Homo sapiens: one gene and its partners. The protein of the gene in region 4 interacts with the protein of the main gene of each other region in a pairwise test. Each region holds a gene or a part of one and is shown on either strand. Other genes may lie near its edges. The genes, in order: SMAD9, EIF4ENIF1, PIBF1, PKP2 and RBM5.

The links.
Region 1: the proteins of PKP2 (region 4) and SMAD9 interact in a two-hybrid assay, tested with the Homo sapiens proteins (one large-scale study listed by BioGRID and IntAct).
Region 2: the proteins of PKP2 (region 4) and EIF4ENIF1 interact in a two-hybrid assay, tested with the Homo sapiens proteins (one large-scale study listed by BioGRID).
Region 3: the proteins of PKP2 (region 4) and PIBF1 interact in a two-hybrid assay, tested with the Homo sapiens proteins (one large-scale study listed by BioGRID).
Region 5: the proteins of PKP2 (region 4) and RBM5 interact in a two-hybrid assay, tested with the Homo sapiens proteins (one large-scale study listed by BioGRID).

The regions. Positions count from the first base shown.
Region 1 is NC_000013.11:36,908,621-36,914,832, reverse strand, and holds part of SMAD9 (mothers against decapentaplegic homolog 9), read left to right. Parts: intron 1-6,212. UniProt on the Homo sapiens protein: Transcriptional modulator activated by BMP (bone morphogenetic proteins) type 1 receptor kinase. SMAD9 is a receptor-regulated SMAD (R-SMAD).
Region 2 is NC_000022.11:31,457,912-31,464,123, forward strand, and holds part of EIF4ENIF1 (eukaryotic translation initiation factor 4E transporter), read right to left. Parts: intron 6,057-6,212; coding exon 5,770-6,056; intron 5,223-5,769; coding exon 5,021-5,222; intron 740-5,020; coding exon 564-739; intron 1-563. UniProt on the Homo sapiens protein: EIF4E-binding protein that regulates translation and stability of mRNAs in processing bodies (P-bodies). Plays a key role in P-bodies to coordinate the storage of translationally inactive mRNAs in the cytoplasm and prevent their degradation.
Region 3 is NC_000013.11:72,794,740-72,800,951, reverse strand, and holds part of PIBF1 (progesterone-induced-blocking factor 1), read right to left. Parts: intron 5,594-6,212; coding exon 5,395-5,593; intron 3,046-5,394; coding exon 2,926-3,045; intron 1-2,925.
Region 4 is NC_000012.12:32,794,247-32,800,458, forward strand, and holds part of PKP2 (plakophilin-2), read right to left. Parts: intron 2,053-6,212; coding exon 1,863-2,052; intron 1-1,862. UniProt on the Homo sapiens protein: A component of desmosome cell-cell junctions which are required for positive regulation of cellular adhesion.
Region 5 is NC_000003.12:50,107,943-50,114,154, reverse strand, and holds part of RBM5 (RNA-binding protein 5), read right to left. Parts: intron 6,086-6,212; coding exon 6,008-6,085; intron 5,924-6,007; coding exon 5,851-5,923; intron 4,553-5,850; coding exon 4,467-4,552; intron 3,777-4,466; coding exon 3,692-3,776; intron 3,477-3,691; coding exon 3,385-3,476; intron 773-3,384; coding exon 611-772; intron 206-610; coding exon 56-205; intron 1-55. UniProt on the Homo sapiens protein: Component of the spliceosome A complex. Binds to ssRNA containing the consensus sequence 5'-AGGUAA-3'. Regulates alternative splicing of a number of mRNAs.

The DNA of each region.
Region 1 (6,212 bases), on a different chromosome or scaffold from region 4:
GATGGATGGTAGCGTTCAACTGAAGTGCCAGGAGTTGCTTTCTGAATTCTTGTATCTAAATTTAACTGACTTGGTAGTACCACATTTCAGGAGTTAATGGTAACGCAGAAAGGGATTCACAGATTCCATCAGTTTCCCACTTTGTGGCAGAATATTTGACATCTCTTATCAGTACACTTCATCATAAGTTCATGAATTCATCTTGCTCCTTTCTTTGCTGAGAATCACAGTGAGAGAATTGGAGTTTGGCTGAGAGGAGGAGTGAGGAAGGAAGAAGGAAGAGTAAGTTTTTTTTTGTTTTGTTTTTGTTTTTTGAGATGGAGTCTCTCTCTGTCGCCCAGGCTGGAGTGCAGTGGCACCATCTCGGCTCACTGCAAGCTCCACCTCCCGGGTTCATGCCATTCTCCCGCTTCAGCCTCCCAAGTAGCTGGGACTACAGGCACCTGCCACCACGCCCGGCTAATTTTTTGTATTTTTAGTAGAGACAGGGTTTCACCATGTTAGCCAGGATGGTCTCGATCTCCTGACCTCATGATCCGCCGGCCTCGGCCTCCCAAAGTGCTGGGTTTACAGGCGTGATCCACCGCGCCTGGCCCGAGAGTAAGTCATTTTAAGGCTTGGGCAGTAGCACTGTTGAGAAGTTTGAGGCACCTAAGTGTGGAAAGAGGGTGTTACAGAAAGCAGATTGGCAGATGCCAAAGGTAGACATCACATATTTGAATTAGTGTTAGTAGTATGAAAGGCACCTGCGTTGTGAGTTGAGAGGATCCTAGTGAGCTGGCCAGGGAAGTACATTAGCACTCATGACATTGTTCTAGGGGAAGGTGAATTCCAGTTTCCAAATAACTATGCAGGATTGAACACCATTTGTTCATAAAGCAAGACCACCAGTGATTGATGATATGGGTGATTATTATTAATGACATAAGTGATTATTAGAAGCCAAGAATGGTGGTAATGAATGTGGAAGATGAAAAATGTGTTAAGCTAAAAAGATTTTAGGTCTCATGTGGTTTTCTTTGTCTTGTTTATGCATTTAGTCATTCTTTGTTTTCTAGTGGAAGTAGAATTTTATTTTTAGGAATAGGAGTTGAATAAAATATTTGTCAAAGACAAACATTTATGGACATGAATGCTTCCCTTTCAGCTTATTGACTATATGTTTACACAAAGCAGTCATTAGGTGTTGGCTGTGTTTGCAAATAATGACAAGTTGGTATTATTTCAAAGGAGTGGCAGTTTTACTTGCTTTCTGTTGTCATTGCATCTAATTTTATTACAAGATATTCTAAATACACTTTATTTTTTTAAAGTTGTATTGATTATATCTTGGGGTTTTAAAGTGTTGCAATTTTGTGGGTGTAGCAATCACTTTAGAAGGTGGAACTTGTAAATTTATGGGGCTTGTATAGGATATTCATTCAACCATTATTTACTCTGTGTCTATTGTGTCTACCCTGCCTATGAGGCCCCAGAACAGGCCCTGGGGACTACACAACGAAATGAAGTGACAAAAATAAAATCCTAGTCTCCAGGATTTCATAGTGTAGTTAGCGTGAAAGAGATCAAGAAAGCAAATATTAAAATATTTCTCCAATAGTAAGATGTCTTACTTCCCCAAACTGTAATCTATTTGGGTTTATTTCTCTATTCAGCTGGCCCTGTGAGTCAGCAGTTTCTGCATCAACAGATTCAACCAACCACAAATGAAAAATATTGGAGAAAAAATTAAAAATAACACAAATAAAAAATAAGATATAAAAACCATTTACATAGCATTTACAGTATAGTAGGTATTATAAGTAAGCTAAGATGATTTAAAGTATAAGGGAGGATGTGGTAGGTTATATGCAAATATACCATTTTATACGAGGGACTTGAGCATCCTTGGATTTTGGTGTCTGTGGGGATTCTGGACTGAATCCCCCATAGATACCTGGGGATGACTGTATTTTTCCTGATTAGACTTCCGTATTTTCTGTGTGTGAATTTTTAGTTAGTCTTGTCAAGGATAATGAGAATGATCTCATTTGGGATTTGGGAGGTAAACTAGAAGGTAGAGGTAAAATAGAAGACATAAACAGGAAGAGATTCTTTCAGTAAGTCCTTATGAGAACTTAGAGATGCTGAGAACATCCCTAGGCCATGGAATTTCACTACTTCCTGAGTCTGTCAGGAGGAGGATCCAGCCTTTGTACAGTTTCCTCCTGTTTTTCCCTGCTACCCTTTACTGGTTCAAGGGTGAGTGAGTTTGCATGGCTGGTCCTATAGGAAACCCCACCCAACCCTTTTAGCCAGCCAGGGGCCTCCAGACCACTTTGAATACACTCTTCTAGTAACTGTTGTAATAGTGCACCTATTACTTGCCTGATAATAATATGTTTAGATTGCTGTCTCAATAGTAGTATAGAGGAAAGGGACCATGTCTTATCTTGAAATATTCAGCTGCTAGGGTAGTGTCCACTTCATTGTTGATACTTGAACCACTCCACCTTTCACTTCCCTAAATATGTTGGGTTTTCAACGATCCCACCTTTCTCTTCCCTAAATAGGTTGGTTTTTGTAGGGTAAGGTGGAAGGAAGGGCAAGGAATTTGGATTTAATCTGTAGGCAAAGGAGAACTATTCAATTTTAACCCGTAGTCATGATAACTATTAAATGGTTTGAACAGAAGAATCACATAATCAAAGGGGTATTTGGAAGAGTGAAGACAAATTCAAGTGGTTTGCATGCTTTTAAATGGCCACAACTCCTAGCTAAGCAGTTGACACACCATCTCCACTGCTTCATGCTTCTCTTTAGCAAATAAAAATCTGAGCTTCCCCGACTGGGTGCGGTGGCTCACACCTGCAATCCCAGCACTTCGGGAGGCTGAGGTGGGCGGATAACCTGAGGTTGGGAGTTCAAGACCAGCCTGACCAACATGGAGAAACCCCATCTCTACTAAAAATACAAAATTAGCTGGGTGTGGTGGCACATGCCTGTAATCCCAGCTACTGGGGAGGCTGAGGCAGGAGAATCGCTTGAACCCAGGAGGCAGAGGTTGCAGTGAGCTGAGATTGTGCCATTGTACTCCGTCCTGGGAAACAAGAGCAAAACTCTGTCTCAAAAAATAAAAAATAAAAAATAAATTGAGCTTCCCCGAACAGCAGTTCATAACACGGCTTATTTGTGATTCTTTATCAGTTTATGAACTCCACCCGCCCCCCCCCCCCCCAGGCAGCCTTTGGCCGGGAAACAGCCTTCCTCGAGACACACATCTATAAAATTTTAAAAATTGCCCACACATCATTAAAAATATATATATTAAACAGATGATTTATAGTCATTTAATACTTTACAAGTATTCAGACAGATTATGCTCTATATAATATTACCTTAAGTAGATAGACTATGCATAGGAAGTAGGGAATGCATTATATAATTCTGTCTTTCAAAGAAATTTATTGTATTGCGTTAGTAAAGCAATGGGCTTTAGGTTAGAACTTCAATTAATTACATGGGGCTTAATGATACAATAGTTGGCCAGGTGCAATGGTTCATGCCTGTAATCCCAGCACTTTGGGAGACCAAGGGGGGCAGATTGCTTGAGCCCAGGAGTTTGAGACCAGCCTGGACAACATGGTGAAAACCCTTCTATGAGAAAAATATTTTAAAAATTTAGCTGGTCTTGGTGGGGCGTGCCTGTAGCCCCAGATACTCAGGAGGCTGCAGGGGGAGGATCTATTGAGCCTGGCAGGTTGAGGCTGCGGTGAGCCATGATCACGCCACTGCACTCCATCCTGGGTGACAGAGCAAGACCCTTTTTCAAAATAGTAATAATAATATTAATAATACAATAGTTAATGGTATTGATAAAACTGGATTTTACTTTCATTCATTCAACATTTATTGATGGCCTCCTGCATGCTAGGTAGGTAGTACAGACCACAATGTGGCTTGGCTTGTGGCCTGATAGAAGGCTAGGCATCTCTGGAGAAAACACTTACCAAATCTGGGGATTCAAGTGTGGTAAGTGCTGTTGTGAGTGACTAGCACATGTTAGGTGCTGTGGAAGCCCAGAGGAGCAGCAGAGAGCTGATCAGTGCTGTTGCCTGGGGGCCTCCAGGGAAGGTTTCCAGGAAGTTGGCTTCCAGCTCTGTTTTGAAGAAGGAGCAGGAAAGATAGAGCTGCACAGGGGCCTTCTGGGCAGGGAGGGAAGGAGTGATGGGCAAAGGGAGTGAAAAGAGATGAGGCTGGGAATGTAGTCTGGGGAGGCCAGATTGCGAACAGCCTTATTTGAAATTGATGTTACAGGCGTCAACTCACAACCCCCACCTCATGATATTTAGTGGGCTTTTAAGTGTAAAATGTATGGATACAGACTCAGAGTAGAAATTTGGGAGATTCACTCTTGGTGGTGTACATTCTGTGGGTTTGGACAAGTGTATCATGACGTGTATCCACCATGGTAGTATCAGGCAGAGTCGTCTCATTGCCCTGCAAATTCTCTGTGGTCTGTGTTTTCATCCCTCCCTCTTCTCATATTCACTATGGTTCCATCTCTACATTTGAACATAGTGTATTTGAGGATCCTGGAGTCAATGGTGGTTAAATTTTAGTTTAAAGAGCTTGTTTTTAATTTTTTTTTTTTTTTGAGACGGAGTCTCGCTGTGTCCCCCACGCCGGAGTACAGTGGCGCGATCTCGGCTCACTGCAAGCTCTGCCTCCCCGGTTCATGCCATTCTCCTGCCTCAGCCTCCTGAGTAGCTGGGACTACAGGCGCCCGCCACCACGCCCGGATAATTTTTTGTATTTTTAGTAGAGATGGGGTTTCACCGTGTTAGCCAGGATGGTCTCGATCTCCTGACCTCGTGATCCACCCGCCTCGGCCTCCCAAAATGCTGGGATTACAGGCGTGAGCCACTGCGCCCAGCCGGTTGTTTTTAATTTTTGGGGCACCTCTTAACTCCCACAGTGAAGCCTACAGGAGGAATAAACAGAAGTATACCTCCATGTTGGTAATATACAATATTATCTTAGTTTACAGTTTTCAAACTGCTTTCTCTCACATCCCCTCAGTACTTCTGCACAAAAGGTAGTGACTATTGTTTCCATTTTACAGAGGAGGAAACAATATGGAAGTGACTAATTACTTGAAGATGACAGTGATGGTACTAGCACTCAGACTGGAGTCTTCTTCCTCCATTCTTGTGTTTTATTCATTATATCATGTTGCCTCTTGCTTCTGGAAGCATTAAATTGTGGGCCCTTCCAAACTTAAATAATAAAATAACACATTTGTGGGGTGGCATACAGTGTTTCCAAGAATATGCTGACTATATGTGTGTGTAAATTATATACAGTTTATTACGTATGTGTAAAGAATGTAGGTTGCAATACTAGAAACTTACACCATGATCTCTACAAGGTAGTGCTGGCCTTCTCTTGTATCACTGTTATGTTGGCTTATCACTGAAATGTTTAAATATGATCTTAATATTCAGACTATTACATGGAAAAATATAGAACATTCTAAACCTACCTTAAGTGACCCAAACTATTGGGCATGACCTTTAGACTCCTGTCTTTGCTGCTTTAATGCCCATTCTACTTCCCTTTCACTACATAGCAAACAGGCAATGGAATAGTGGTTCTGTCTTCCAAAGAAGTGATAATGAGCAACAATAAAAACTGTATCTAGTTTCTTTAATTTAAAAAATAATTCAAAATCTCCGTTGAAACTTTAAAAATGATATCCAATCAATAGTAACATTCTAGCCAAAAAAACTGTACGAGTGGCCAAGAGAACTGTATTTTAGGGATGTAAGTAAATGTAGACCAAGGCTTCCCAAGTGGCTTATTAAGTATAAATTCCAGTGACATCTGCTTACCATAGTACTTCATTGCCATGAGCACAAGGCTGCCTGGTAAACCAAGAGTCTTCATTTGGGCCACATATATCCCTTGTAGTCATGGCCTTCAGTTTCATGTGAAATTCAGTGTGAATATAAAAAATCCAGCCGTTATTGGAGAGTCTCTGATTTTACAGTGAGATTGTGTGTGTTCTTTCTCCTCCCACCATAATTAGTTGTTTAGTTGCTAATTTGTTTTTATTTTCACTTCTTTTTTTTCCTTTTGACTATTTTATCAGATGCGATTATTATGTCACTTCCTCTGGGCCACAGTATACCCAAATTCAGGAGTGATGATGATGTATTTTTAAAATGAAC
Region 2 (6,212 bases), on a different chromosome or scaffold from region 4:
TAGTGATAAACAGGAATTCTAAAAATAACTTTAAAAAGCCAGGTGCGGTGGCTCACGCCTGTAATCCCAGCACTTTGGGAGACCAAGACAGGAGGATCACAAGGTCAGGAGTTCAAGACCCGTCTGGCCAACATAGTGAAACCCCATCTCTACTAAAAATACAAAAATTAGCTGGGCATGGTGGCACACACCTGTGATCCCAACTACTCAGGAGGCTGAGGCAGAAGAATCGCTTGAACCCAGGAGACGGAGGTTGCAATGAGCCAAGATCGTGCCACTGCACTTCAGCCTGGGTGACAGAGTAAGATTCCAACTCAAAAAAAAAAAAACAACAAAAAAAGAATTTTTAGTCTAACACCACCAGCTTAAAAAAGAGTTAACTGGTACAAAAATCTCATATTATCCATTAAGCCTCTCAAAACAAAGCCAACAAAAATTTAAATATGTAAGAATAAAAGCCAAAAACCCCAAAAGCATCTAGCAAAACAACACTTTCAAACCGATGTCTTAAATACTCAGGTCAAATTTAACCACACATTTTTTAAGTGTGCTGCTACACTCACCGAAGCCAAGCATGGCACCTTATCAAGGTTAAAGAACTCATTAAAGTCAAAGTCTCCTGGGGACTGCTCAGGCAAGACAGCATCCCTTGGCACTTCCTGATCAGCCGCAGGCTCCTGTGCAAGGATGACCTCCACTTCATCCTCTTCGGCCACTCCTCCATTGCACTCTACTATACCTGAAAGCAAAACCAGGACAAAAACCGTCTGATAAGTAAATCACTCCAGTGTCCCTCTGTGGCTTCAGCCATCAGTATACATGTAGAAGAGCCACACATGACTTAAAAAGCAGACTTCTCGTGCAGGTACTGTACTTGCAAGAATAAAACAGTCCCCCTTCTACGGGAGGCAGAAAAGGAAAAAAGCCTTAATAAAGCTAGAATACCAATGGGATGTGGGGAGGATTATGGTTCCCTTCGTGGGAACTTCATATTTTCTATAGTGGAGGGGGGTCTTTTTTTTTTTTTTTTTTTTGAGATGGGGTCTTGCTCTGTTGCACAGGCTGGAGAGTAGTGGCACGATCACAGCTCACTGTAGTCTCTACCTCCTGGGCTCAGGTGATCCTCCTGCCTTAGCCTCCAGAGTATCTGGGACCACAGGTGCACACCACCATGCCTGGATAATTTTTTAATTTTTTGTAGAGACTGAGTCTCGCTAAATTGCACAGCCTGGACTTAAACTGCTGACCTCAAGTGATCCTCCTGCCTTGGCCTCCCAAAGTGCTAGGATTACAGTAGTGAGCCACTGTGTCCAGCACCATGCCTAGTTCTTTTTCTAGTGATTTTTTTTTTAAAGGATAGTCTTTGCAAGTCTCTTACTGCTTAAAAATGGAACCAAATTAATTTAGCTCTGCTTCTGCCCATGCACCTGTAGCACCACTTTCAGTCAGGGCTCAGCAACCTAAGGTATTTATGAGAAACCTGGCATGAGGGCAATTTTCACTTGCCTACAGGTTGGTTGTTGTAGCTCATCCTTCAAGGCGAAATTCAAATGTGACCTTCTCTGGGAAGCTTGCCCTGCCTACCCATTTTTGCCCTACCTAGTAAAATTAATTGCTACCTTCTCTATAATCCTTATGTCATCTCTGAGTACTTGTCACACTGTATAATAGTAACTCTCTGGTGAGGCTAAACTCTGAGGGTAGGGAACCTGGTCTAACCAGCTTTGTCTTACTCTGTAGTGCCAGGTATACTCTACAATGTTCAGTTGTTTTTAGGATGGGGAGACAAAGTGAAACTGCCAGATGCTAACATTTAAGGCATCTGACATCTTAGTTTTTAATGTTTTTATTTATTTTAAATACATAGCAAGGGCAACCTAGAGACATTCTGTAGTTAGCTAATGGGATGAACCAAGACCCCTGGATTCTACTCCAGGCTCTGCCATGAAATCCATCCCTTCTCTCCAGGTCTCAATTTCTCTCTGCATCTGTAAAATAAGGAGGTGCCACTACCAATCTATCTCACTCCTGACTCCTGCACTTGATACAAGAATGGTTGAAATTCAGATTTCACCTCACTTAAGAAAAACATAATTTTTTCTCACCAGAAGCCTGATCTTTATCGTTAAAGTGGTGCTTTATTGGGTGCTGCTTTAATTAAGAATGAGACAAAGACATATCTCAAAGCCAATTTAATAGCAAAGTCTTCCAAGTTACCTATCAATTTCTTACATTATCCTAGGGAACACTGTGTGATAGCACAAAGATAATGGTAATATGTACTATATTTTGAAGACTACAAAAGAAGATGAGTATTTTGATTCTCCATTTCCTTCTCCTTCTAAATAAATGCCATCAGCTTATTTCTGCTTATATTTGTCTTCATCAAAATGTTAAGGTGGCACTGATTTTTCCCTTATTTATTAAAATAGCTTTCCCAGACCAGGCGCAGTGGTTCACGCCTATAATCTCAGCACTTTGGGAGGCTGAGGCAGGTGGATCATGAGGTCAGGAGATTGAGACCATCCTGGCTAACACGGTGAAACACCATCTCTACTAAAAATACAAAAAATTAGCTGGGTGTGTTGGCACGCGCCTGTAGTTCCGCTACTCCGGAGGCTGAGGCAGAATTGCTTGACCCTGGGAGGCGGAGCTTGCAGTGAGCCAAGATCGCACCACTGCACTCCAGCCTGGGTGACAGAGCGAGACTCCGTCTCAAAAAAAAAAGAAAATTAATTAAAAAAAAAAATAGAGGACTGGCGCAGTGGCTCACGCCTGTAATCCCAGTACTTTGGGAGGCTGAGGCGGGTGGATCACGAGGTCAGGAGATCGAGACCATCCTGGCTAACATAGTGAAACCCCATCTCTACTAAAAATACAAAAATTTAGCTGGGCGTGGTGGTGGGCGCCTGTAGTCCCAGCTACTCGGGAGGCTGAGGCAGGAGAATGGCGTGAACCCGGAGGCGGAGTTTGCCGTGAGCTAAGATCGTGCCACTGCACTCCAGCCTAGGCAACAAAGCAAGACTCCATCTCAAAACAAACAAACAAACAAAAAACAAAAAAAAAGGCTTTCCCCTTTTGTTGCCTAGTATCTGCCAAAAGGCTTTCAACTAAGCCTGAAAGCTTGAGGCAGGTAGAATTTACTGAGTGCCTTCTTGGAGGCTGAGTTCTGATGGGTACATGTGTTCTTCAATGCTAAAGGTAACCCTTAAGTTATGATAGGCATTGTTCTTCCCTTTACAAAGAAACAGGCCCAGCTGTCAAAATTTTGTCAAAAATTATCCTTTTCTAAGCAGGAGCCCTAGTACTTTAACCCAGGTTAGTCCCCACCTGGCTCTACAGTGCCTCCTTCCCAAGACCATCAGCCTGGGACTGGCCACCTTAGAGCCAGGTCACTGCCCTAAAAAATGATTGGCTGCAGACCAATGGGCTCCCACTCTGCAGCAGGTACTTCACACACATTAGCTCTGGCTCCTTCAGTTTAGCAAGGGAGATATCTGACCCCATCTTACAGCTGAGGAAACTAGGTTTTTTTGGTTTTTTTGGAGACAGAGTCTCAACTCTGTCTCCCAGGCTGGAGTGCAGTAGCACAATCTCGCTGCAACCTGTCTCCTGGATTCAAGCAATTCTCCTGCCTCAGCCTCTCCAGTAGCCGGGAGTACAGGCATGCGTCAACACACCCAGCTAATTTTTGTATTTTCAATATAGACAGGGTTTCACCATGTTGGCCAGGCTGGTCTCAAACTCCTGACCTCAAATGATCCACCCGCCTTGGCCTCCCAAAGTGCTGGGATCACAGGCGTGAGCCACCGTACTCATCCTGAAACTAAGTTTGAGAGAAGGCAAATCACAAACAACTGACCTGGGAAGGCCTAATACCATGATGAAGAAGGTAGGCTCTGATGCCCAGAAGCATCTTGCTTTACTCTTGACTTCACTACTTATTTCCATGGTGACTACCTTAAGTGTCCTTGAGTTACTTAAGCCCTCTGAGCCTCCATTTGCTCATCTATGAAATGGGCATAAAAAAGTACCTACACTGCACAAGGTCATTAGGAGATGAAGGATTACACAGACAAAATACACTCACCACTGTGTTTAGGACATAATTGCTCAATAAATGAGACCTCTCATTTTTCTACCACGTTTCTTATTTCTGGGGAACTCTTTCATGTACACAGTCCTCTTACAGGATAACTTCAGACTTTTCTGTTTAGTGTGGCAGGCAGAACGAGTTAGGGAAACAGTATGATCTACACTTAGTGAATCCTCACTTAAGCAGTTGCAGGGGCTGGGCATGGTGGCTCACACCTATAATCCCAGCACTTTGGGATGCCGAGGCGGGTGATCACCTGAGGTCAGGAGTTCGAGACCAGCCTGGGCAACATGGTGAAACCCCATCTCTACTAAAAATAGAAAAAATTACCCAGGCGTCATGGCAGGCACCTGTAATCCCAGCTACTCGGGAGGCTGAGGCAGGGAAGAATCGCTTGAACCAAGGAAATGGAGGCTGCAGTGAGCTGAGATGGTGCCACTGCACTCCAGCCCGGGCAACTGAGCGAGACTCCGTCTCAAAAAAAAAAAAAGATTTCAAAATCAGGATGCATCATGAAAAACTTGCCATTTCCTATACATCTGGTGCCCATTCCTAAGTGTACAATTAGCCAGTGATAATCACATCTCTATTTTATTTTTGAGACAGTCTTGCTCTGTCACCCAGGCTGGAGTGCAGTGGTGTGATAGCTCACTGCAACCTCTGCCTCCCAGGTTCAAGCAATTCTTGTGCCTCAGCCTCCCGAGTAGCTGGGACTACAGGCACCAGCCACCACACCCCACTAATTTTTGAATTTTTGTGGAGACGGGGTTTCACCATGTTGGCCAGGCTGGTCTCAAACTCCTGACCTCAGGTGATCCGCCCACCTCGGCCTCCCAAAGTGTTGGGATTACAGGTGTGAGCCACCACGCCCAGCCTACATCTCATTTTAAAACAGCGAACTTCCCTCCCAAAGTTTGAACTGACCTTCCTTCACAGAGGCTGTCCGTCGCCTTGTTCTTTTTCTCCCTTTGTGATCTTCTTCTAGTATCTTATCATCAAAGCCAGTCAGTTCGATGGTTTCAGACTGACTTGTGGGTCCAGCAGAGAACCACTCTGGTTCTTCTTCTGTGTAAGAATCATTTCTTCTACGCTCACCAAAGACACGCTTACTATCTCCAAACTCTCTCTGGAAAAGTACATAAAGCAAGATTAAAAAATTTCTAGTCAAGCCATTTCTACTTCAGTCAAGGTCTTCGTTGTAATGTTCAATAGTGAAAGGAAGATATGATGCTGTATACCTGAGGCCCATCACCACCCCCACCCCTTCCTCCCTGACTGGTTTAAGAGCAGGCTGTGTTCATGCCTGTTCTCAAAGTAACCTGGTATAAAAAAAGTGAATATCAAGTCCCCAAGCACATGAACTACCAAAGAATCTAGAAGACAAACCCAGGTCGGGTGTGGTGGCTCACGCCTGTAATCCCAGCACTTTGGGAGGCCGAGGCAGGCCGATCACCTAAGGTTGGGAGCTTGAGAGACCAGCCTGACTAACATGGAGAAACCCCGTCTCTACTAAAAATATAAAAAGTTAGCCGGGTATGGTGGTGCGTGCCTATAATCCCAGATACTGGGCTGAGGCAGCAGTGAGTCAAGATCGTGCCATTGCACTCCAGCCTGGGCAACAAGAGCGAAACTCCGTCTCAATTTAAAAAAAAAAAAAAAAAAAAAAGACAAACCCTGAAACGCTTGTCCTTGAAGTCCCTCTCTCGGTCTCTGTCTCTCAAGTCCCGCAGGTCCTTATCGCTAAGACGGTGATCCTTCTCAAAGGTCCGGGCAGAGATTATCCTCCCACTGCCAATCCTACGTCCACCAAGCAGACGAAGCCCATCACTATCTTTCTCTAATGGACTTCCTGAGCGCCGGGAGCTAACAGCGGCTGTCACGTGGCAGCCCCCTCCAAAGCTCCGTCTCTGAGGGCTGAGAACAACATCTAAGTCATCTTCTTTCACACGCTCTCGTGGATCTGGAAGGACGTGGGAAAGACAAAGTTAAACAAACCAACAAGGGTGTTTTCTTCTTTTTTAGATAGTATGTCCATGACTGATGGGAGGAAGGGGATGGTTGGAAGAGAGTCACCACTAAAATTGGGCTTATCAGCAGATTCAGGGTAACATGTACA
Region 3 (6,212 bases), on a different chromosome or scaffold from region 4:
TTCCTCAAGGCTTTGTAAACTTCTAAGCTGTTTAATGAGACCTACTAGCCAACCTTACAGAATTCTGACAATGCTCTCTTCCCTGCTCTCCATATAGCACTCAATTCACCTTATCTTGAACTATTTTTTTCTTTTTTCTATTACAATTATCAACTTTTGTCACACTACATGATTTGCTATTGTTTTCCCTTTTAAAATACAATATACATCTCACAGATATCCTTTAAAAATATAAACTCCATGATGGCAGGGATTACTGTTTTGTTTAACAAGGTATCCCAAGTACCAAGAATAATGCATGCCGTATATAGTAAATGCAGGATACACATTTATTGAATGAATTTCATTCTTTATAATATGACCACGTGTGGTAGGTGTTACATGTTATCGTCCCTATTTTACGGACGGAGAAGCTGTTAAGATAGGAGACAGACTGTTTTTTATCCAAGATCATCACATTGTTATCAAGTCGCAGAGATGAGAAACTATGTCTTTTAATTCCTCAAATAAATAGCAGTAAATAATTTAATGAACCATTTCAAAAAATAAACTCCAGAATATGTGACATTTATTTGAATATTGAGTAGTACTATTTATTGTTTACTACATCCTGTTTGGCCAGGTGCAGTGGCTCACGCCTGTAATCCCAGCACTTTGGGAGGCCAAGGCAGGTGGATCTCTTGAGGCCAGGAGTTCCAGACCAGTCTGGCCAAAATGGCGAAATTCTATCTCTACTAAAAATACATAAATTAGCCAGGTGTGGTAGCGCATGCCTGTAAGCCCAGCTACTGGGGAGGCTAAAGCACGAGAATCACTTGAACGCAGGAGGTGGAGGTTGCAATGAGCAGACATGGCACCACTGCACTCCAGCTGGGGCGACTGAGCAAGGCTCTGTTTAAATAAATAAATAAAGCTGTTTAATGATATTGGTTTTGCTTTTTATTTAAAAATATTTACTTTTTTCCTAGTGTTTGGCAAGTTGACCTGTACCAGGTCCTTGACAGGGCAGAAAAACCACAAACTCTAAGAATGGCCTGAGGAATCTGTGTTCAAGAGAAATCATGCTGAGAAGTCCCAAATATTAAGGTTATTTTAAAAAGGGTGGCTTGATAAAAACAAGGATAGGGAGCTCCTCCAGCCCTCCTACTACACAGTAAGAAGTCCTTGAGGGATGCTGAGGTACCATAAGGTGTATAGAACCAACGCTAAGACCTTGTCTAACTGCCTCTTCCCCAATAACCCCTGTACCACCAAAACCATCCTGGGCATTTTACAGAAACAATAGAGTATAAATGATTTGCCCAAGGCTGCAAAATTAGAAAGTGGCCAAACAGTGGCCTTCTCTGTTCTCTACTATTTTGACTACAGTTGAATTTTTTTTTTAATTGAACTATCTTTCTAAATGTGCAAAACAGTTTACCTGCACAATATGACATGCTAGGAGAAGAAAAGAAAACAACTGAAGTTTGGAGTGGGGGCACATCTGCCCCTCTAATTGCTCCTGCTGATGTCACTGCTCCTCAGAGGAGAGGAAGCTAAGCCTTCTTATTTTGTCTGAAATATTGGTTCTATGGCAAGACTTAAGTAAATTATCTCTAAGACTAATAGTACAGCAAAGTAGAGCATTAAAAATACAAATTAAATTATAATTATTTATTTCTGGATAATATCATTGACAAAAACTGCCCTTAAAATAGGACATAAATGTTTGTATGCAACTTTGCTAAAATCATGTTTTTACTCTGAAACAGAAATATAGGCAATGCAATTAAATAAATGAACAAACAGTATTATTTTCTCCATTTGACAGAACAGGAAACATTAAATGACCTGGTCATGGTCACACAGTAAATGAGAGTGTCAAAATATCACCTAACGTTCTAATCCTAACCTGCTAGAAAGTAAACTCTAGAAGGGCAGGCATTGCCTCTCTTGGGTTCACTGCCAGCACCTAGCACAGCACCATGCACACCACTGGGGTTAATGCTAGTATCAGTACACATGCTCAGAATAAATATTATGAGAGTTAACTGCACTTCACAAAGAAGCCACGTAAGTAATAAATGGACAGTAGCTCCATCTCATATCACGAACAAGGCTAACTTGTAATGAAGAACTGCAGCAGCCCCCATTTGTAAACTAGAAGTGTTTTCCTTTTAGAATAACGAAATATTTGAAGAAAAACAGCCACCCATTTCCAACTGTTACATGGTAGAATGAATCAATCTACCATTATTTTTTTGTTAGTAGACTATAACTACAAGATAGTATTCTAGGATATCTGGTCAATAATACAACCAAGTTAATGATTAGTCCACCCTTCTATATAAATGTTGATTTATGATTACTATATTCATCGTCTAGGCTGAGATAATTTTGAAAATAAAGGGGTGCTATTAATATTTATTCACAGGAATAATGGCAACAGTCTTAGGCAAACCAGAACCTACGAGTCAACTTAGTTCAAAGTAAAAATATTCTCCTTTTCTTCTTTCTTATGGCACCTGCAAGAGATCCCCTGCATAGCTTGGCCTACATTTCTTGTTTCTTGCTTAAATTTCCTGACAAAGTGATGTTAAAAATAGAGACAAATTACTAAATAAATACATGCATATGCGTCATCTAAGGATACACAGCAATTTTCAGATATAGCCCATATTAGGATTTCAAAAGCAGTTGATTATAAAATTGACTTGCAACAATAAAAGCTCAACTATAGGATACGTCAATAACACAGACTTGTCTTGTCAATGTTTAAGATGACTACTTCCAATTTAACCTCCTTCCCATTATTGAACTGTAGCAGTCACCATCCCATAGTCCCATTTTTCAATCACTGACTTTTATATGCCTTATCACAAATCCTGAGGGACTCTACAGAAAAAGCCGAAGCTTCTTCCCACCAGCAATCAAAACCATACAAACCTCTGTCAGCTGCTTCAGTTGGTTTTTGTTTGTACTTAATTCTTCTGCTAGGATATTCTTTTTCACTTGTAGTTCACAGATTTCCTTTCTTAATGGATTCACTAGCTCATAGAAGCGAACCTTGAAAAAAATTAAATTAATAAGCAGTCTTAAATCCAAATTACAATTAAAATTTGTAATTTGTAGTGCTCTCACTTATCAGTAATAAAGATAAATATTTACAAAACTACAACAAGACAGTCATTAATGGACCCTAGCCACTAATACTTTCTATCAAGCCTTAATGTTCAATTAACTTCCCTCAAGGGCCAGATGATTTATAACCTCTTACCTTTGACAGTATTTCCTCCCTTCTACTGACACTCCATTACTACTCATCTACTACTGCTCACTCCACACTAGGTGCTTGTAAACTTCTGGAACATATCACAAATGTTCAGGAGTCTTGCTCTTGCTGTTTCTTCTGCTAGAGAAGTTCTTCCCCCATATAAATGCATGGCTCATGCCTTGTCTCCCTATAGGTCTCTGACCAAATATTACCTTGTTAGTAAAGCCCTCCCTGATTTCTTTACCTAATTTTAAGTAGCACTCCCTATTTTTCACCCCTGCTCTTTTCTCTGTAGCACCTTTGACAAACAGATATTCTACATATTTAATTTTTAAGTTATTGCCTGTGTTGCTCCACTTTCACAACCTGAGGGCAGGGATTTTTGTCTGGTTTATACACCGCTGTATTTCCAATGCCTAAATATATGATAAGCACTCAATAAATACTTGATGAAGAGGTAAAGTGTATTCTTTATTTTCATCCCAGGCTCTTGGCAAAGCTTTATTTACTGCTGTCCCTACAGTGGAAGTCTAATCAGAATGAATCAAGAGGTATCTTTCACATCATTACTTCCATTTAGTTCAGGTCTCTCTTTCCACTCATACTTGTCTCAGAGAAATTTTCCTACCCTAGCTCAGTAAAGTGTTCCATCTGACAAGGTCCCATAAAACTAAGAAATCATCACAGCAAATTAGGAGAGAGTAATTAGGGGCTATCATATAGGCATGCAATCTGAAACTCCTTAACATATGACGGTATTACAAGAATACCATTATTTGGTAAGAGGCAAATCTTAATACTAGCCCTCAACAAAAAGAATCTGCATATAATTAATTAGTTAAGGATAATATTGTCTGTGAAAACAAAAGATGTAAGAAGGAATATTAAGAAAACAAACAGCAAAAATATGTGTAACTGCCACCAGTGTGATACTTTATATCTACTGTAAATGAAGCCTCAAAAACAGAATTTGAGATATTTAATTTGTTTTGGACAGTATACTTTGGACAGAAAAGCTGTATTTGAGCCTTTTAAAAAAAAAAAAAAAACAGCTGAACAAAAAAGTAACTTCATTTTATCAGACATCACTAATCTGCAAATCTTTTCCCAATGAGAACCAAGAATAGCAACCACCACTCCAGCAAAAACAATAGACAACATTTTTATGTGTTTACTATCTTCTAAGCACTATGCTCACAAGCATTTTACATACATAGTTATAGTCTTTACAATTATCCCCAATAGAAACGCACCGTTACTATTAACCCTTTTTAGGGATTAAAAAATTCAAGCCTCTCAGGGTAAAATGACATCTACATATTAAAAAGCAGCAGTTCTCAACATATGGTTTTGGGACTCCTGGACTCTGCCCCACTCGCCACTCTGAGATCCTTTCAGGGAATTCACAAGATCAAAACGACTTTCCTAGTAATTATTAAGATTTTTTTTCCCCGTTTCATTCTCATTCTCTCATGACTGTTCAGTGGAGTTTGCCAGTGGCTACATGACATATGACATTATCACTCTTAAGGCCAATGGAATTGTGTGCTTATTCTTGTGTTTAAAAAAGTTGTTAGTTTAAAATTCTAGTATGGTAAATATTAATAGATACAGCCCATATAAACAAACACTCATTGGGGTCCTCAATAACTTTTAGAATGTAAATGAATGCTGACACCAAAATATTTGAGACCACTGCCATAGATTAATCCTAGGTGTTCTAGATTTGTGTAACCAGCACTGCAATCAAGATCTTGCGCCAATCTCTCACCACAAAGTTCTTTCTCATCCTATCCCTTTATAACCACGCTGACTCCTCTCTCCCACTATCCCCAACCAACCCCTGGCAACAACTACTCTGTTGTTTATAATTTTTCATTTTGAGAATGTAAGAAACCACCAGTTTACGATAATTCATTTCTATGGACTATGCAGTCATTAACTTCAGAAACCTATTTATTGCTTGACTTTGGAGATCAATGGTCATGATCCTTTAAAATTTGGATCTCAACACCATTCACCATCCATAGCCATAAAATAATGTATCAATTGGGTACTTCAAAAGTAATTGCTACTATATAAATGGTAAATTTTAGTCTGAAAATATATGTCATAGTTAAAAATAGATATAAGATACTTACAGATACATATTCAGGAATAGAAAGCTGATCTTCAGGAAAAGCTTTTAATTTAATATATTGCTCTTCTGTCAACTCAAAGTCACGCAGGTTTCGACGAACATCTCCAGCTTTTTCTCTTAGCTGAAGATTTGTCTCTTCTAGTTGTTTCTGTCTCAACAAAATGGTTTCCATTTCTTGTTTCATTAATTCTTGATATTTGCTACATTAGAAGAGAATTTATGGCAGGCTTTAAAAAAGTATTTGAGATCTAATTTTCTCACAGTTTCCTATTTATATCAACATAAAGTTAGGAAATCAGAAACCTGACAGTATTATTTACTTACTCCAGCTAAATACTTATTTACTCATATTAATCAGTTAAATATGAAATGACAATTCCATACTAATTATTAAATGTGTAACCATATAAATTATTAAACAGAGAATTGATATTCTTAAAGAATAATTTTAGAAATTCAAATTATAAAATTATATATTTCTTCTGCTTAAGGTTTAATGTTAAACATCAAGGACTCTACTTATTAAAGTAATTTTCATTTCCCTTTTATCCTGATACTTCAAGGATATCTCTTTAAGATGGTAACACTGAACCACCATAAGGTATTCACTCAACCAATGAGGTAATGAAAACAGTAATCTGCACATACTCATCATTCTCAAAGAATACATGTAGCAGACATTATTGTTAGTTGCCTACTGAAAGATTCTGATCAGGAAGGGACAATCTGATGTTATTAGTCTGCTCTCATGCTACTAATAAAGACATACCCAAGACTGGGTAATTTATAAAGGAAAGAGGTTTACTGGACTCAGACTTC
Region 4 (6,212 bases):
CTCTAATATTCAAAACTGTAAAAAGTTATTAAATTGCAAGGCTGTTATATTCATAATATTTGTTTATAAGTTGGTTGTTTGATACTTGGTACTCTTTTATTCAAAGATGTAATGTTATAAATGATAATTAGTTCCCAGGCTAGTCCACAAACGGTAGGTCAGATATATAACACTCTAGTAAGGAAAGAGCAGCAGACACCACTGGCAAGAAGCTCCTTGTTAACTTTTGTTTTTGAGACAGGGCATGTGAGGACTCACAAGTGGACACTCGGAAATAAACAAGTAACAGAGTAGCTCACCCCTTATCTTGCTAAGCTACCAGAAGTTTCCAAAAGTAATTGCATATTGCCATGTGCAACAATTGTTATGTCTGAATACTCGAATAATGAGCATCATACTATCTTACGGTGATTTGCTTGGAAGTTTGGATGACTATTTGGAAGAAAAGTCATTTCTGTTTTGCAACAGTAATTCACTCTTTCCACAAAGACTGAGCAACTCTAATACTATCTGCCAGCCTCTGGGGATGGGTGAATATTCTTGGGGAACTGACACTCCAGCCAGTGCTCAGGGCTTGTTTTAATCTGACTCTAAATGCAGTCTTCCTTCCTTGTGTGCACTGCAGAGTGGGGCTGCAGAGCAGAAGGGGCCTAAATTGGGTGGGGCTGTAGTAGAGGTAACATGTACATCCCTGTACAGCCAAGCACACATTTCTTCAGTACAGGTGAAGTCATCTGCTTTGTAACTCATTAAAACTAGGCTATCATAGCCATTTCTTTTCTTGTTTGGTTATTTACAAAAGTAACATATCTATTTGTAATAAGTCAAACAATTCAGAATTGTATAAAGAGAAAAAGATAATCTTCATGCCCCTTTCCAATCTCATCACTCTAAATTAACTAATAGTAAATAATTTGGTTATACAAGGTTTTTCATTCTCCTCCTTTTTTTTTTTAATAGGGAAAAGTTGAAAACAGGAACACAGATGTGGAATGACATGCATTGGACCTTCTATTATCAAAAGGGAATAAGATGCGGAAGAGATAAGACAGAGAAAAAACTGTGAAAGCAAGACTTTCTCATCAGGCTACCCCCTGACTGCTTCTCCTGTGTCATCACTGCTGCTGCTGCTTTTTTTTTTTTTTCTTTTTTGAGACAGAATCTCACTCTGTCAACCAGGCTGGAGTGCAGTGGCACGATCACGGCTCATTGCAACCTCTGCCTCCTGGGCTCAAGTGATTCTCAAACCTCAGTCTTCCAAGTAGCTAGAATTACAGACACGCACCACCACACCCAGCTAATTTTTGTATTTTTACTAGAGACAGGGTTTTGCCATGTCGGCCAGGCTGGTCTCGAACTTCTGACCTCAAGTGATCCATCTGCTTGGGCCTCCCAAAGTGCTGGGATTACAGGCATGAGCCACTGTGCCCAGCCCATCACTGCTTCTTCTAAACCACCTGGTGTGACATCCCCTCCTAAGATGGAAGTGAGGAAAAGGGCACTTGCCTATTCAGAGGACTCCTGCTTTGCCTACATTCTGCTGTTATTAAATCACAGCTGTGGCTTTGGGAAACTAATTCATTAGGCCAATACAATGCTGGAATGCACAACCAAGAGAAGTTCTGGAGTCTGACCCTCTGTTGATACTTTAGAAGAGAAGGGACAAGCATGTGGTGTGGTGGATTCAGTTCTTTCCTTGGCTGATCACTGAGGGCTGACCAGATGATCTGGCCTGGCTTTACATCCTGTTTGCTGCCATGTTGCACATGATGGTCATGACCGCACATTCACAACCGGATTATTTACACACAGGCTGGTGAGGGGAAAGGGAGGCAGCTGACGGGCAGAACTGAAGGACTTACGCATCGCCTGCACTAATGGCCATAATTTTCTGGATGCCCCCGGTGTTTAGAAGGTCGCGTGCATTCTGGTAACTGTTTTGGATTATGTTGTTCAATGTGTAACAGGCAGAGGCTGTAGTTTCAATGAGAAGGTCAGTACTCGGGACTGTGTCAGGAATGATGGAAACCAAATCAGGGAGAGTTTCTTTGGCTACAAAATGAAAAAAAAAACAAAACACTTGATTAAAAAGATTGTTTCTTAATCCCAAGATCCCAATATATTTTGGGTGAAGAACATTCTTTTTCTTTTTTTGAGACGGAATCTTGCTCTGTTGCCCAGGCTGGAGTGCAGTGGCACCATCTTGGCTCACTGCAAGCTCTGCCTCCCGGGTTCACGCCATTCTCTTGCCTCAGCCTCCCGAGTAGTTGGGACTACAGGCACCCGCCACCACGCCTGGCTAATTTTTTTATTTTTTTATTTTTTTTTATTTTCAGTAGAGACGGAGTTTCACCGTGTTAGCCAGGATGGTCTCGATCTCCTGACCTCGTGATCCGCCAGCCTCGGCCTCCCAAAGTGCTGGGATTACAGGCGTGAGACACTGCGCCCGGCCAAGAACTTTCTTAAAAAGAAACACAGCTGGTTAACAACACATGGAAAGATGTAATTTCCCTAATAACAAATTTTTAAAAATATTTGAAAAGAGGATACTCTGTGCTCAGTATATTGAAAATCTTTTCAGAGTGTAATTTGGCAGAAATGTCAAGAACTTAAAACATTTTCATCTTCTTCAATTCGGTAATTCCATGTCTAGGAATACATCTTAAAAATATCACTTTGAAAATGAAAAAAGCTTTCTACAGAGATCTTTATGACAGTACTACATGTAACTGAAAAACTAAAAAGCCTGAATATCCTTATAATAGGACTATGATTAACTAAAACACACCTGCAAAGACTATTATTCATCACAAAACCTATCTATGAAGCATGTATAATAAAAAGAAAATAATTATGTTAATAGTGTATGTGAAAAATCAGTATATTTATATAAATAATACATAATATTATTGGCCAGGTTCGGTGGCTCACACCTGTAATCCCAGCACTTTGGGAGGCTGAGGTGGGTGGATCACTTAAGGTCAGGAGTTCAGGACCAGCCTGGCCAACATGGTGAAACCCTGTCTCTATTAAAAATACAAAAATTAGCTGGGCGTAGTGGCACATGCCTGTGCCTGTAGTCCCTGCTACTCAGGAGGCTGAGGCACAAGAATTGCTTGAGCTTGGGAGGCAGAAGTGGCAGTGGGCAGAGATCACGCCACTATTCTCCAGCCTGGGCAACAGAGAGAGACCCTGTCTCAAAAAAAAAAAAAAAAAGAATACATACTATTACCAAAAAACCCACGTAAGAAACCTGAGGAAAAATGTTAATAGGAGCTGTTTTTCTACAACAATATTAATAGTGAACTAAAATCTTTTTTTTTTTTTGAAACAGAGTCTTGCTCTGTCACCCAGGCTGGAGTGCAGTGGCGCGATCTCGGCTCTCTGCAAGCTCCGCCTCCCGGGTTCATGCCATTCTCCTGCCTCAGCCTCCCGAGTAGCTGGGATTACAGGTGCCCGCCACCACGCCGGGCTAATTTTTTTGTATTTTTAGTAGAGACGGGGTTTCACCTTGTTAGCCAGGATGATCTTGATCTCCTGATCTTGTGATCCGCCCGCCTGGGCCTCCCAAAGTGCTGGGATTAGAAGCGTGAGCTACCGCGCCTGGCCAAGCTAAAATCATTTTTAAGGCCAGGCAAGGTAGCTCATGTCTGTAATCCCAGCACTTTAGAAGGCCGAGACAGGAGGATCACTTGAGCCCAGGAGTTTGAGACCAGTCTGGAAAATATAATGAGACCCCGTCTCTATTTTAAAAAGTAAAATTAAATAGTAAATAAATAATAAACGAATAATCTTTGCTTCCCAAGGTTTTTCCAATACATAAGTAATACTACTCTTGTTTTTTTTTTTTTTTTGGAGATGGAGTTTCGCTCTTGTTGCCCAGGCTGGAGTGCAATGGCACGATCTCATCTCACTGCAACCTCCGCCTCCCAGGTTCAAGCAATTCTCCTGCCTCAGCCTCCCGAGTAGCTAGGATTACAGGTACGCACCACCATGCCCGGCTAATTTTTTGTATATTTTTTTTTTCAGTAGAGATGGGGTTTCTCCATGTTGAGGCTGGTCTCGAACTCCTGACCTCAGGTGATCTGCCCGCCTCAGCCTCCCAAACTGCTGGGATTACAGGCGTGAGCCACTGCGCCTGGCCTACTATTTTAAAAAGAGAAATAAACTATTTTAAATGTACTTTTCTACTATGTATATAACTTCTTGGTTATAAGTTTTGAGTTTGGCTTTTTTTTTTTGTACTAACAAGAAAGGTATTAAAAAAATAGACATGCCACTTTCACAATTAGGCTATAGAAAATAAAAAAGATACATAGACCAATGGAATAGAATAGAAAACCCAGAAATAAAGCAAAATACTTACAGCCAACTGATCTTTGACAAAGCAAACAAAAACATTAAGTGGGGAAAGGCCACCCTATTCAACATATTCAACAAATGATGCTGGGATAATTGGCAAGCCACATGTAAAAGAATAAAGCTGGATCCTCATCTCTCACTTTATACAAAAATCAACTCAAGATGGATCAAAGATTAAATCTGAGACCTGAAACCATAAAAATTCTAGAAGATAACACTGGAAAAACTCTTCTAGACATTGGCTTAGGCAAAGAGTTCATGACCAAGAACCCAAAAGCAAATGCAACAAAACCAAAAATAAGTAAATGGGATCCAATTAAACTAAAAAGCTTCTGCACAGCAAAATAAATAATCAGCAGAGTAAACAGACACCCCACAGAGTGGGAGAAAATATTCACAAACTGCATTCGACAAAGGACTAATATCCAGAATCTACAAGGATCTCAAAAAAGCAAGAAAAAAGCCAAATAATTCCATCAAAAAGTGGGCTAAGGACATGAATAGACAATTCTCAAAAGAAGATATACAAATGGCATAAGAAAAATTTTTTGATACGCCTCATACATATGAAAAAATGCTCAACATCACTAATTATCATGGAAATGCAAATTAAAAGCACAATGAGATACCACCTTACTCCTGCAAGAATGACCATAATTTAAAAATCAAAATTTAATAGATGTTGGCATGGATATGGTGAAAAGGGAACACTTCTACACTGCTGGTGGGAATGTAAACTAGTACAACCACTATGGAAAACAGTATAGAGATTCCTTAAAGAACTAAAAGTAGAACTACCATTTGATCCAGCAATACCACTACTGGGTATCTACCCAAAGGAAAAGAAGTCATTATATGAAAAAGACACTTGTACATGCATGTTTATAGCAGCACAATTCACAATTGCAAAATATGGAGCCAACCTAAATGCCCATCAACCAACGAGTGGATACAGGAAATGTGGTATATACACACCATGGAATACTACTCAGCCATTAAAAAGAAAGACATAATGGCCTTTGCGGCAAATTGGATGGAATTAGAGACCACTATTCTAAGTGAAATAACTCAGGAATGGAAAACCAAATATTGGATGTTCTCACTTATAAGTGAGAGCTAAGCTATGAGGATGCAAAGGAACAAGAGTTATATAATGGATTTTGGGGACTTGGGGGAAAGGTAGGAAGGGGTGAGGGATAAAAGACTACACATTGGGTACAGTGTACACTGCTCAGGTGACATGTGCACCAACATTTCAGAAATAATCACTAAATAACTTTTGCATGTAACTGAACACCACCTGTACCCAAAAATCTATTGAAAATTCTTAAAAGGTGTTAATATTTGATAAATCCACTGGAACTTGTCCTATGGTACATATTTTGGTCAATGTGAACTTGTGCTTAAACTTTTTGTAATAGTTATTTTCATGTATGTTTTCCTCTTTTTCCTCTAACCACTTTAGACTCTTCTTAAAAGATAGAGAGCATGCATCTTTTGCTTTTGCTGATCCCCACAGCTTCTGAATACGTGTTGTGTTTATCAGCAATTAACAAATACTGCCTAATTTTATTGTGTGCCTTCATCTGTGTTCATGTGGCATCTTGAAGCACATTTCTCTCTCTATGATACTGATAGTAATGAATTGTGTGACTGTCTCAACTTCAGATGAGGCTGTGGGTTCCTTGAAGCCAATTATCTTACTTATTTCTGTGTTTACAGCGTTGATCATTATTCCTGAAATGGACAAGTACTCAATAAAAGGCACTGAATGATATGTCATCATAATACCTGGACCTGATTGACAGGTAAGACATACCTTTTGCTCACAGGCCTGAACACTTTCCTTT
Region 5 (6,212 bases), on a different chromosome or scaffold from region 4:
GACTCAAGTTTTAGGTAAGTTCCCATCATGACATACTGGCCATTCCTGCTATTACCTTCTTCTCAAAGAGAGCAAAGCCAGCGTCTGCTGCAGCAGATTCTCTCCTTTCTTCTTCCCTCAAGGAATTGACAGGCTGAAAGCTATTTTTAAAGTTTTCTTTCTGCTTATTCAAACTCTTAGCCCAGCGTTCCATGTCTTTGGCAATCTAATGTCAAACAACAAACACCAACAAAAAAATATTTAATCCCCTGTGCCATGAGAATGAGCCATTAAGGATCTTATCTCAACTATATGCCCTGTAACAAACCCCTTTTACTCTTACTTCCACCTACAAATATTTCCATTAGATGTTATCACATATAACCAAAGTCATTCATAAATACTGCTTGAAAAGCTTTGAGATTTCCAGGGCTTTTTTCCCTAAGTACACAGGCTGACAGTCAAGATATGGTAACAATAACAAATTGCAAAATGCTCTAAGAACTTAGTATGAATAAAATGTGAAGCCCAATTTTTAAGAATCCAAATAATACTGACATAAATGCTACAACCCCAAAACTAAGAGTTCAGCCCAATACCTCAATGAAAGAAATATGGGTCATGTTCTAACCTGCTGGGCTGTTTTGCTCTTGGGTTTCTCCTTCTTCTCTTTCCCCTCTTTTGCAGGAGGCAGGCCCGACTGCTGGTGGGAGCTAGACTCTGCAGCTGGCACGTAGGTCTCTTTTTCCCCATCCCAGTAAAGGTACTGCTGGGTCAAGGAATTATAGTAGTACTAGAAAACAACAAACAAAAAACAATTAATGCAGACTTTCTGCTATGTCAGTCGATTACATATTTTGTCAAAAAAAAGATAAAGTATGTTGTGGACTAGTGATATTTCCTGCCCAGAAAAGACCCTGGGCACACCTTGGTATAAGTAAAGGTGATGAACCACCTAGCAAAGAGGTGTGACACTGCTAGAGTAAAAATAGAATATGATTTCTTTAAAAAGTTTAGTTCCCAGCCGGGAGCAGTGGCTCATGCCCGTAATCCTAGCACTTTGGGAGGTGGTGGTGGGCAGATCACCCAAGGTCAGGAGTTCAAGACCAGCCTGGCCAACATGGTGATAACTCATCTCTACTAAAAATACAAAAATTAGCTGGGCATGATGGCACACCTGTAATCCCAGCTACTCAGGAGGCTGAGGCAAGAGAACTGCTTGAACCTGGGAGATGGAGGAGGTGGCAGTGAGCCAAGATCATGCCACTGCACTCCAGTCTGGGCAACAGAGTAAGACTCCATCTCAAAAAAAATGATAATAAAAATTTAAAAAGTCTAGTTCCCATTAATTTAATCCCTGGGCCTACCTAGAGGGCACCCAAAGAGCAATTTGTCTCACTCTGTTCCACAGACTATTTACATAAACCAGGCAGCCAGAACAGGTGGGCGTGTCATGGAGTTCAGACATCTGCCATGACAACAGCTCATCATTGGGCCCATCCACATAGAATCCATTGGATACCAGGCAACCACACACAGGGTGTAAACACTAGCACAGAGCTGGAAGGAGGTGTTGGTGAAGGGACCCAAGCTCAGCAGGAATTGCAACAGAGGAGAGGTGTCACATATCCTCTCCTCTATTTTCCAGTCGCTCACTCTATCTGCTCAACAGGGACCCAGGAGACAGTGTCTGTCTCTTCTGGGTAAGGTGGCGTGGCTAACAGACACAACTTTTTTTTTTTTTTTTTTTTTTTTTTTTTTAGACAGAGTCTCGCTCCGTCACCCAGGCTGGAGTGCAGTGGCGCGACATTCGCTTACTGCCAGCTCCACCTCCCGGGTTCACGCCATTCTCCTGCCTCAGCCTCCCGAGTAGCTGGGACTACAGGCATTCGACACCACGCTTGGCTAATTTTTTTGTATTTTTTTTTTTTTTTTAGTAGAGACGGGGTTTCACTGTGTTAGCCAGGATGGTCTCAATCTCCTGACCTAGTGATCCTCCCATCTTGGCCTCCCAAAGTGCTGGGATTACAGGCGTGAGCCACTGCGCCCAGCCTACAGACACAACTTCTAAGGCCACCAAAGAGAACTGACGGGAAAAAAAAAAAAAAAAAAAAAGAACTGACAGGGAAATAAATGGCCAGGCTTCACAAATGAGAGAAGTGGATGGAAGAGGTATGCAGAGGCTTGGCCTGCTTAGGCACGTCACACACAGCTTCACACTTCAATCTCTCAGAAACCACAACCTATCAATGCCAAGTTCCTGTTAAAAATACTTATTACTGTTCTATATATACAGCTCCCGGTCATAAATAGAGTTATTTATGGGGTGTTAAAGTTGTTTTTCCCTTTTAAAAGTTATATATGCCACCAAAAATAAAACATCACTCCATACATCTGCTAAATTCTACCCTCAAGAATACACAGGGAGGCAAAGTAAAGGATGCTGGACACAAAAGGTAATCTATTGTCTGACTCCACTTATATGAAATGTCAAGAACAGAGGGCTGGGCACAGTGGCTCATGCCTGTAATCCTGGCACTTTGGAGGCTGAGGCGGGTGGATCACTTAAGGTCAGGAGTTCGAGACCAGCCTGGCAAACAAGGTGAAACCCTGTCTCGACTACAAAAATTAGCTGGGTGTGGTGGGCGCCTGTAATCCCAGCTACCAGCTACTCAGCAGGCTGAGGCAGGAGCATTGCTTGAACCCAGGAGGTGGAGGCTGCAGTGAGCCAAGATCGTGCCACAAAAAAAATAAAAAAAGCAAATCCATAGAGACAGAGAGTAGATTAGTAGTTACTGGAGGAGAGTACAGAATGGGGAGTGACTGTTTAACAGGTACAGGGTTTCTTCTTCGAGTGATGAAAATGTTCTGAGATTAGACAGTGGTGACAGTTACACAACACTGTGAATATATTAAAAGCCACTGATTTGTACACTCTAAAAGGTTAAACAATAGGGAGAAAAGTACAATTTAAAATTTCTAGCTAGGTCTTTCCATAAATTGTAACTTGACAAAATAATCTATGGCAACAGAAATCAAAATAGTGGTTATTGAAGACATAGGTTACTGACCAGCAATGGGCATGAGGATTAGGTGGGCTGGGAATAAGTGGTGGTGTATATACACATGTAATATACAAATGTATAGACATGTATAAACATTCAAAGAATTGCACATTTCTGTTTTGTGTATTTTTTTGTGTGTATATTATACCTCAAAACATTTTTTAACCCTACAATTAAAACTTACAATCTCCATATAAAAATTACATTTTGGTGGCTTTGAAGAAGTTAAAACTAATCTGAGTCATATATTCTTTTGCAGGAAATATTTCATTTTATGCCTCATAAATGCACTAAGCGAAACTACTTCTAGTGAAATTGAGGAGGAAAGCAGCACATTTACTTGCGAGTTGGGGTCATAATAGAGCCCTGTTGTCGGATCATAGTAATATCCTGAAGATTCATCATACTGGTAAGTGGACGTGTCAGGTACTGCTGCAAAAACAAAATCCAGCATACAGTCATTCCAGGTAAGAAATTGGCTTTATTTCAAATTCTAAGCCAGTGAGATGCAGCAGGCCTAATGTTTCTTCTCTGTCTCACATCCCCAAGTGTCCCTCTGACACCCGCAAAGGGAGAAGAACTCTCATTAAACAAAGACAACAACTAAGACCTTCCAACTGTCAACAGCCCCATGAGGTTTGGCTTACCATATTTGGTACCAGGAACTACACCAGTAGGGGAAGCGGCTGGGGCCTGTGTACTTGTGCTAGTGCTAGGCTGTGCTTCCTCAGTCTGGAAAGAACAGCAGCTTCAATATAATTTCAACTGTAAAGCCTTTTAAGAGAGCTAAATCACTGCAATCATCCAGGAGGAAGGGCTCCCCTGACAGACACACTGTAGCAATAATCTAAGGCAATCCCTCAGCAAAACACATGTTGACAACTTTTTTGCTTTCTTTTTCAAGAGGAGTCTTGCTCTGTTGCCCAAACTGGACTGCAGTGGCGCAATCTTGGCTCACTGCAACCTCCGTCTCCGGGGTTCAAGCAATTCTCCTGCCTCAGCCTCCCGAGTAGCTGGGATTACAGGCATGTGCCACCACGCCCGGCTAATTTTTGTATTTTTAGTAGAGACGGGGTTTCACCGTGTTAGCCAGGATGGTCTTGATCTCCTAACCTCGTGATCCACCCGCCTCGGCCTCCCAAAGTGCTGGGATTACAGGCGCGAGCCACCACACCCGGCCCCGGCGACAACTTTCTAAAGGTCAAGCATGCATAAAGTGTAAATACACAGTTGAAATTTTATATTTAAAATATACATGCACATATATATCATAAAATTAATATTTTAAAACAACAGAAAGAAATAAGGTTGAAGTGTGTATTACTCAATCCTGGCTCATACAACAGGAAAGGGTAATACTTGTATAGCAAAACAAAATTTCCCCATCAGCCACGAGTTTTGTATATAGGACAACAGGATTACCGGAGAGCCAGGTGGATTGGAGGTTTGATTATACAGCTGAGGACTCTGGGACACTACAGCCGCTGAGGTGGTGGTCACTGCTGTGCCTGATGATAAACACAAGTGTTAGGGAAAGCCAAGGCACTGAACGCCAACCCAAACATCTTTATTTGTAATGCCCAATCTAGCCTTCTTCTGTCATTGTATATGTCAGTTCTTCATAAGCTAACTTCCACTAAGTACCCTGGAATCTGTGACATTTTCATTTTCTTATAATTCTACTAGATGTGATATACAAAGTTAAGGATTCTGTATCATGGCTAAGAAAAAGAGAAGAGGCCGGGTGCAGTGGCTCAGGCCTGTAATCCCAGCACTTTGGAAGGAAAAGGCGAGCCGATCACGAGGTCAGGAGATTGAGACCATCCTGGCTAACACGGTGAAACCCCGTCTCTACTAAAAATACAAAAAATTAGCCGGGAGTGGTGGCAGGCACCTGTAGTTCCAGCTACTTGTGAGGCTAAGGCAGGAGAATGGCGTGAACCTGGGAGGCAGAGCTCACAGTGAACCGAGATAACGCCACCGCACTCCAGCCTGGGCAACAGAGCGAGACTCCGTCTCAAAAAAAAAAGAAGAGAAAAGGAAGAGAAGAAAGGATCTATATTTGCTCTGGGGTTGAGAAAGATTTAACTCACAAGGCTTTTTAAAGCCTGAAACAAAAATTAAAGCCAAGGCTTCTTAGAGTAGCTCTTCTGATTGATGTCTGAGCACCAGTCTCCAGGGCCACATCCTCTCTGCTCACCTGAACTTACGTGGGCACTCACGACTCCAAACACAGAGAGGGGAAATACAGAGTTGAATTCCAAGAATTAAACTCATCACAACATGGTCTCTAAGACCTTGTATTAACTCCTGGTGTACACAAATAACCGTATTCTTCCCCAGAACCTTGGGTACATGATGACAGCCCTGAATATGCCCCCTACATTCTTTTTTTTTTCTTTCTGAGACAGAATCTCACTCTGTCGCCCAGGCTGGAGTGCAGTGGCGCAATCTCAGCTCACTGCAATCTCTGCCGCTCGGGTTCAAGCAATTCTCCTGCCTCAGCCTCCTGAGTAGCTGGGATTACAGGCGCCTGCCACCGCACCTGGCTAATTTCTGTAGTTTTAGCTGAGATGGGGTTTCACCATGTTGGCCAGGCTGGTCTTGAACTCCTGACCTCGTGATCCACCTGCCTTGGCCTCCCAAAGTGCTGGGATTACAGGCGTGAGCCACCGTGCCCGGCCATGCCCCCTACAATCTTACAGAGAAATGGACTTGTAGCTTTTGGTCCAGTTAGGACATTTAATCATATTTCTTCAACTGTAAGTGCTTAAACAAAAGGTAAAAGGGAGATGAAGTTTACTACCTGATGCAGATGATGCATCAGATTCCAATCCTCCAGCTTGTTGTTGATAAAACTGCTGATAATCCTGTGAATACTGAAGAAAAGTCCACCATTAAAGCTGCTATTCTCAGACACACTCTGCAAGACTATAAGGTGGATGCTGCTAAAATCTACCTACCTGAGCATATTGGGCATAGCCATCTTGACCTGGTTGCAGATAACTGTAGTCAACACTGCCTCCTTCACCACTTTGAGACTACAAAACATCAAAATGAGACAAAGACAAACTTAGTAGGCATTAAGGAAAAAAATTCAGAAGTCCCTAAAAATGAGCTCATGATGCTGGGCGCTGTGGCTCACGGCTGTAATCCCAGCACTTTGGG